2 linked regions of the Homo sapiens genome follow. The protein of the gene in region 1 purifies or fractionates together with the protein of each later gene. This does not show direct contact. Each region holds a gene or a part of one and is shown in the gene's direction. Other genes may lie near its edges.

Region 1 (3,816 bases):
GCCCCAGGGAGGTGCATGGGTGACAGTGGACGCTTTAAAGCAAAAGGATGGCTTCCATCACGGGCAACGTCAGGGACCACTCTGGGTGCCCTGGCTTCTCCTCCATGCCTTGGACTCTACTGATAGACTCTGGGGTCATCCTGCTGCTGTTGCTGGAGTCTGGGAAGCAGCCCCCAACCCCCACTTCCACCCGCACACCCCTACTCAGTACTTCATCAGCTCAGTGTCCACTCGGGTCCATTTGGTGGTGATGTGGAAATAGACAATGCCGGCTTTAGAACAAGCCTGTGTACTGTTGGGGTTGGGACCAAAGAGGCACATGGACACAGTGGCTGCAGCTGAGTAAAGAGGAGTCCAGAAAGGGTCAAGCAAGACTTCCCCAGGGCTGCCAAGTAGGGGAAACCCAGAATATCTATGGGGGCAGAGAGGGGATTGAGCAAGACATGCAGGCGGTACAAAGAGACAAAAAACAGTGGCCAGTGTGGAGCTTTAGGGAGAGAGATGTTCCGGAGTCTTGGGTGGGGGATCTACAGGGGTACCAGCCTGTAAAACGATCAGGGGCTCCATAGGAACTGTTGTGATTGGAATTACCTGCAGCTCAGACAGGAGCCCACCTAGTGTGGCCAAAGCCTGGGACTTTTTTGTTTTGTTTTGTTTTATTTTGTTTTGTTTGTTTTTTGAGACAGGGTTTCAGTCTGTAGCCCAGGCTGGAGTGCAGTGGGGTGAACTTGACTCACTGCAGCCTCGACCTCCTGGGCTCAATCAATCCTTCCACTTCAGCTTCCTGAGTAGCTGGGACTACAGGGGCACATGACCACGCCTGGTTCATTTTGTATTTTTTGTAGAGATGGGATTTCACCATGTTGCCCAGGCTGGTTTCAAACTCCTGGCCTCAAGCGATCTGCCTCCCTTGGTCTTCCAAAGTGCTGGGATTACAGGCGTGAACCACCGTGCCTGGACAGCCTGGGACCTTTGAGAAAAATTTGCTGGGGCCGAGGACTGAAATAAAAGATCACTGTTGGGTCATGGATACTCAGTGCTGGGCTGGGCTCAGGGCCCCCCTGACCAGACTGCCCCCAACAAATTGCCTATATGGTTGCTCCTAAAAATGTTCCGTTTCTCATAGTCGATGTTCTCTAGTTAACTGGAGTGTGCCCTTTTCTTCATGAGCCTTCTGGAGTCCCCTTTCCCTTTTTCTGGACTACCCCAATTTCTGGACAGCCCATTTCCAGAATCTTCTCTCCTTAAGCCCTGCTCAGGCACCACTCCAGTGGAAAAGACCAGAAATTTATTTCCCCATCCAATAGTCCCACTTGCAGGATAGGTGGAAAGAAAGTATGAAAAAACCTCTCTCTCCCAGAATAAACTACAGTGTTTACTCCTGTTTAATTTTTAATTTTTCTTGCCACATCTGAACATGATGAGGAAAAATGTCTGTGTGTTGAGATTGAAGTGACTCAGTAGAAGCATGAGGGGCTGTAGCAGGAGAGAAAAATCCTCCTACTCCAGGGAAAAGGGTCTTCTGGTGAGGGCTGGCAGGGTCGCGTGGCTTTGTGACCCATGCATGAGCTCCCAACTGTGCTAATAACCCATGGCTGACTTTGCCTGTGTCTAGAGGGAGCGGCTTCCACAACAGCAAGCTCACCTACCAACAGCAATATGGCAGTGTTCATCGGCTCCCACAAGAGGTGAGTCATGTGGTTCTTTCTCCTGCCCCTACCTGGGGTCCCTCCTAAGGGGAAGCCAAGCCTGGGAACTCCTGCCTGTCACCAAATGCCAGCACCTGTTCTAGCCAGAGTCAAGGCCCCAAGCCCACCCTCCATCTCTCTCCTGCCCCCATCACTGCAATCCACCATCTCCCCACTCTAGCTCTCACCAGAAAACCGCTCTGCAGAACTCTTCTCAGTGAGCATCATTCTCCCAGTCAATCAGTCAACCTTGCATTGGTGGCCTAATGGGTGCCAGGGGGAGATAAGATACCACCCTCTGTGGTGCAAGACATCAAGGGACACAGAACAGGAAGGGTGATTTACCAGCCTGGAGCTAGCATTAGCAGGAACAGAGGCAGGAAACACAACCTGTATTTGGTGACCTCTGGCGCTTCTGTTGAGCTGAGATGTACTTTGGGCAAAGAGGGTCCCAGAAGGTGATGTTAGAAAGGAAGATGGGCCCCGTGCAAAACCAGCCAAGGTGACTGTTGGAGGACCCCTTGAGGTTGAACCAAGGAGGAGGTTTACAGGAATCTTCAGAGTGGGGCTGCCCGGCCCAGGGTCACAGGCTTTGGCTGGTGGCTCACAGGGTCAGGGGATGGGAGTGACATGGCCTGGGGATGCCCAGGGCTCTGACCACTGCATCCCCTTCCCCAGGAACCACTACATGCTCCTGGTATTTGTGAAGGTGCCCATCTTGCTCATCTTGGTCACTGCCATCCTCTGGTTGAAGGGGTCTCAGAGGGTCCCTGAGGAGCCAGGGGAACAGCCTATCTACATGAACTTCTCCGAACCTCTGACTAAAGACATGGCCACTTAGAGAGATGGATCTGCAGAGCCTTCCTGCCCTGGCCACGTTTCCAGAAGAGACTCGGGCTGTGGAAGGAACATCTACGAGTCCTCGGGATGCAGTGACTGAGATAGGGGCCCTGGGCCTCCGCCCTGGCCTTGGAGCTGGTGGGCACCTCCCTGTTCTGCACAGCTCAGGGACTTAGCCAGGTCCTCTCCTGAGCCACCATCACCTCCTGGGGTGCCAGCACCTGTTCTCTTGGTCAGGAGCTGTAGAGATGGAGCTCAAGCACTGGACGACTCTGTCCCCACTGCTGGAATAACTCGGGCACAGAGCATGGGACCAAAGTACAGAAAGAGGTTGGGGGAGACCCCCCCAGCCCTAGACTTCCATCATTCCGGAGACCAACTCAACACCGTCTTTGCCTGAGAACCTGATATATCCGTGTTTTTAAATTTTTTTTTTTCTAGCAAAGTTGGGTTTTAATGACTTATGTTCATAGGAAACCTCTCTGATCCCACACACAAGGAGGGTGATTCTGGGATGAGTTCCTGGTTCTAGGGCATGAGGGGCTGGATGGACCCTGTCCCCAGGGAGGACATGGCTCTGAGTCCACAGGGCTGAGGAGGCAATGGGAACCTCCCTGGCCCGGCCCGGTGCTTGTCCTCCCCCTCCCACCTCTTCCTCCTCCTAGCTCCCCAAGCTCCCTGCCTATTCCCCCACCTCCGAGGGGCTGCAGCTTGGGAGCCTCCTCAGCATGACAGCTTGGGTCTCCTCCCCAAAAGAGCCTGTCAGGCCTCAAGAACCACCTCCAGGTGGGGAGGGCAGTAACGAAAACCATCGCAGGAAATGGCACCCTCCCTTTTCGGTGATGTTGAAATCATGTTACTAATGAAAACTGTCCTAGGGAAGTGGTTCTGTCTCCTCACAGGCTTCACCCACGGCGATGAGGCCCTTGAATGTGGTCACTTTGTGCTGTATGGTTGAGGGACCCTCACACCAAAGGGACCTTCCCATGTGAGATGTGCTCCCGCCCCCACCTGCCCACAAGCAAACACACCACACATGTTCGGCATGTTGCCCTTTGAACACCCATGAGGACGCCTCCAACCTGCTCTTGGTTCTAATAGGGAGTACTGACTGTCAGCAGTGGATAAAGGAGAGGGGACCCTCTGGTCCCTAGCATGGCACCCAGAGCCTCCCCTCTTCTTGTCCTTCAGCCAAAGAGAAACTTTCTCTGACTTTGAACTGAATTTAGGTCTCTGGCCAATGATGGGCCTGAAAATTCCATAATGGCCAGAGAGGAGAGTTCGAGCC
Region 2 (3,816 bases), on another chromosome or scaffold:
TTACAGGCATGTGCCACCATGCCTGGCTACTTTTTGTATTTTTAGTAGAGGTGGGGTTTCACCATGTTGGCCAGGCTGGTCTTGAACTCCTGACCTCAAGTGATCCGCATGCCTCAGCCTCCCAAAGTCCTAGAATTACAGGCGTGAGCCACCACACCTGGCCAGCCCTTTAATTTTTTTAAAAGTCAGGTTTATGGAGGTATAATTTACACAGAGTAAAATTAAACTTTGTTAGTGTACAGTTCTATGAATTTTGACAAAAGCATACAGTTGTGTAACTACCACCACAGGCAACACATAAACCCTCTCTACAAAGAACTACAACTTCTTGTAGTTCACTCCCTCTCCTCACCCTTCTCTGGCAGCTGCTGATATGTTTTCTGTCATTATAGTTTTGCCTTTTCCAACATGTCATAAAATGGAATCATATATATAATATATAACCTTTTGAAAAGTCTGGCTTCTTCCACTTAGTATTATGCATTTAGAATTCAACCAAGTTGCATGTATCAGTAGTTCATTCCTTTTTATTGCTGAGTAGAATTCCACTGTGGATATATATACACAGTTTGCTTATTCTTCTATTGATGGACACTTGAGTAATTTTCAGTCTGAGACAATATGAAGAAAGCTACTCTATACATTAAGGTACAGATTTTTGTATGGACATATGTTTGCATTTCTCTTGGGTAAAGTCAATATCAAAGAGTAGGATTTACTGTGTTATGTCGTATGTGTTTAACTTTGTAAGTTATGTGCCAAACTATTTTCCAAAGTGTATCATTCTGCTTTTCCAACAGCAATGGATGAGAGCTTCAACTGCCCCACACCCTTCCCTGCACAGTATTGTCAGTTTCCTTCATTCTAATAGGTACATGCTGGTGTCTCATTGTGGTTTTAACTTATATATCTCCCTAATGACTAATGATGTTGACAATCTTTTCATGTGCTTATTTGCCATGTATGTAACTTCTTTGAAGTGGCTTTTCAAACCTTTTGCCCATTTTTAAAGTAGGATTGTTTTTGTTTTTAGTTGGGAAGTTTCTTTATATATTCTGGATAGAAGTTCTGTTTTTTGTTTTTGTTTTTGTTTTTTTTGAGACAGGGTCTCACTCTGTCACCCAGACTAGAGTCAGGCTAGAGTGCAGTGGCATGATCTTGGCTCACTGAAACCTCCACCTCCTGGGCTCAAGGGATTCTCCCACCCTGTCTCCAGAGTAGCTGGGACCACAGGCATGCGCCACCACATCTGGCTAATGTATGTATTTTTTGTAGAGACAGGGTTTTGCCATGTTGCCCAGGCTGGTCTTGGAACACCTGGGTTCAAGCAATCCGCCCACCTGGGCCTCCCAGAGTGCTGAGATGGATTACAGGCATGATAAGTCCTTTATCGGATATGTTTTGCATATATTCTCTCAAACTACAACTTGTCTTTTTTCAACAGTACTTTTCAAATAATAGACATTTTCAACTTTGATTAACCTAATTTATCAATTTTTGTTTGTTTGTTTGTTTTTGAGACGGAGGCTTGCTCTGTCGCCTGGGCTGGAGTGCAGTGGTGCCATCTCGGCTCACTGCAAGCTCCACCTCTCAGGCTCACGCCATTCTCCTGCCTCAGCCTCCCGAGTAGCTGGGACTACAGGCGCCCACCACCACGCCAGGCTAATTTTTTTTTGTATTTTTAGTAGAGATGGGGTTTCACCATGTTAGCCAGGATGGTCTCGACCTCCCGATCTTGGGATCCGCCCACCTCGGCCTCCCAAAGTGCTGGGATTACAGGCGTGAGCCACCGCGCCCGGCCTAATTTATCAATTTTTAGATGATTAGTTCTTTTTGTGTTCCAAGATATACACCTTATCCAAGGCCACAAAGATTTTCTCCTGTGTTCTCTAGAAGTCTTATAGTTTTAAATTTTACATTTATGTCTGTAATCCATTTTCCATTTTGAGTTAAATTTTTTCTAATAAGGGGTATGCATTGAGGTTCATCTTTTTTTTTTTGAGGCGGAGTCTGGCTCTGTCTCCCAGGCTGGAGTGCAGTGGCGCAATCTCAGCTCACTGCAACCCCTCGCCTCCGGGGTTCAAGCAATTCTCCTGCCTCAGCTTCCCTAGTAGCTGGGATTACAGGCACCCACCACTATGCCCAGCTAATTTTTGTATTTTTAGTAGAGACAGGGTTTCACCATATTGGCCAGGCTGGTCTCAAACTGCTGACCTCATGATCTGCCCGCCTCGGCCTCCCAAAGTGCTTGATTACAGGCGTGAGCCACCGTGCCTGGCCGAGGTTCATCTGTTCATCTTTTTCACAGAGATGTCTTTTTTTTTTTTTTTTTGAGACAAAGTCTTGCTCTTGTCCCCCAGGTTGGAGTGCAGTGGCGTGATCTCAGCTCACTGCAACCTCCACCTCCCAGGTTCAAGCGATTCTCCTGCCTTAGTCCCCCGAGTAGCTGGGATTACAGGCGCCTGCCACCAAGCCTGGCTACTTTTGGTATTTTTAGTAGAGACAGGGTTTCACCATGTTGGCCAGGCTGGTCTCAAACCCCTGACCTCAGGTGATCCATCCGCCTTGGCCTCCCAAAGTGCTGGGATTACAGGCGTGAACCACCACTCCTGGCCAGAGCTGTCTTAATTGTTCCAGCACCATTCGTTTAAAAGTCCTTTGGTTTTCTTTTTTCTTCTGTTTTTCATCTTTGTCTCTTTTTTTTTTCTTTCTTTCTTTCTATATTTCCTGGGAGATTTTCTCAAGTACTGTCTGGTATATTTCATTTTCACTTCTACTTTCTTATTTTTAATTTCAGGAACTTTTTTCTTCTTCCTTTACTGTTCCTTTTTTACAGACAATACCCTGTACGGCTTTCATGGTCATAATATCCTCATCATTTGGAGGATATTTTTCTTCTTCTCTCTGCTCAGTCTCTGTTTCATGTGAGGCGTGTTTTATCCATATATTTCAGTGTCTACTTTTTTGTGATGACTGTTTCTCAGATGTCTGTAATCCTTGCTTGGCCACTCATATTTAAGAGTGAGTGACTAAAAAGTTGAGTGGAAGCTGTAAACACATGAGTGGGGCTTGTCTATTCTGACCTTAACTATATATCTTTAGTGGTCTATGTCAGCATCCTGAGAACTTTCCTCCCGGTCTGGCCAGATTTTGCAGAGAGGGATCCTCTAAACTCCTGCCTAGATGGTGGAGGTCTGACTCAGTGTTCTGGAATCTAGGTGGAGGAAAGGGTGAGGGAGGTCTCAGGACCCAGAATACCTGCTTCCACTTAATGCTTCTGTTTTCATTATGGCATCCCCTCCCTTAACTGTGGTCCTTATCCATTTGAGCATTTCTCATGCCTAACCTGGCAGGCATTGTTAACTGAGTAAATGAACTGTGTAGTTTGTTATTTGTTGCAAAGAAACTTTTGATCATTCACTCTCAATATGTAAATATCTATTTAGAAATTGCATACTTTACTGTTTTATTAAATATATTATGTACATTGTAAAGCAAATAAAAAAGTAATAAAGGCTGAGATAAAAATGAAATAATGCTTTCCTGTGCTTGTGTGTGCTGGCTTCATATTTTTATTAGCCAATATCTCAAGGCACAATATACACTTAGAAAAAAAACACATCATTAGTCAACGTAGAGATAAATATGTGTTTCAAGTAGTTCTGAGAGGTTTTTTGTTTTTTTAATTATTATTTTTTAAATTTTTATGTATTTATTTTTTGAGACAGAGTCTCACTCTGTCGCCCAGGCTGGAGTGCAGTGGCGCAATCTCGGCTCACTGCAAGCTCCACCTCCTGGGTTCACGCCATTCTCCTG

What was found.
Region 2: the proteins of CD300LB (region 1) and DDX19B purify together in Homo sapiens (affinity purification with mass spectrometry; one large-scale study listed by BioGRID and IntAct). This does not show direct contact.

The regions. Positions count from the first base shown.
Region 1 is NC_000017.11:74,521,451-74,525,266, reverse strand, and holds part of CD300LB (CMRF35-like molecule 7 precursor), read left to right. Parts: intron 1-1,615; coding exon 1,616-1,688; intron 1,689-2,366; coding exon 2,367-2,529; 3' UTR 2,530-3,757; coding exon of another isoform or gene 3,758-3,816. UniProt on the Homo sapiens protein: Acts as an activating immune receptor through its interaction with ITAM-bearing adapter TYROBP, and also independently by recruitment of GRB2.
Region 2 is NC_000016.10:70,302,058-70,305,873, forward strand, and holds part of DDX19B (ATP-dependent RNA helicase DDX19B), read left to right. Parts: intron 1-3,816. UniProt on the Homo sapiens protein: ATP-dependent RNA helicase involved in mRNA export from the nucleus.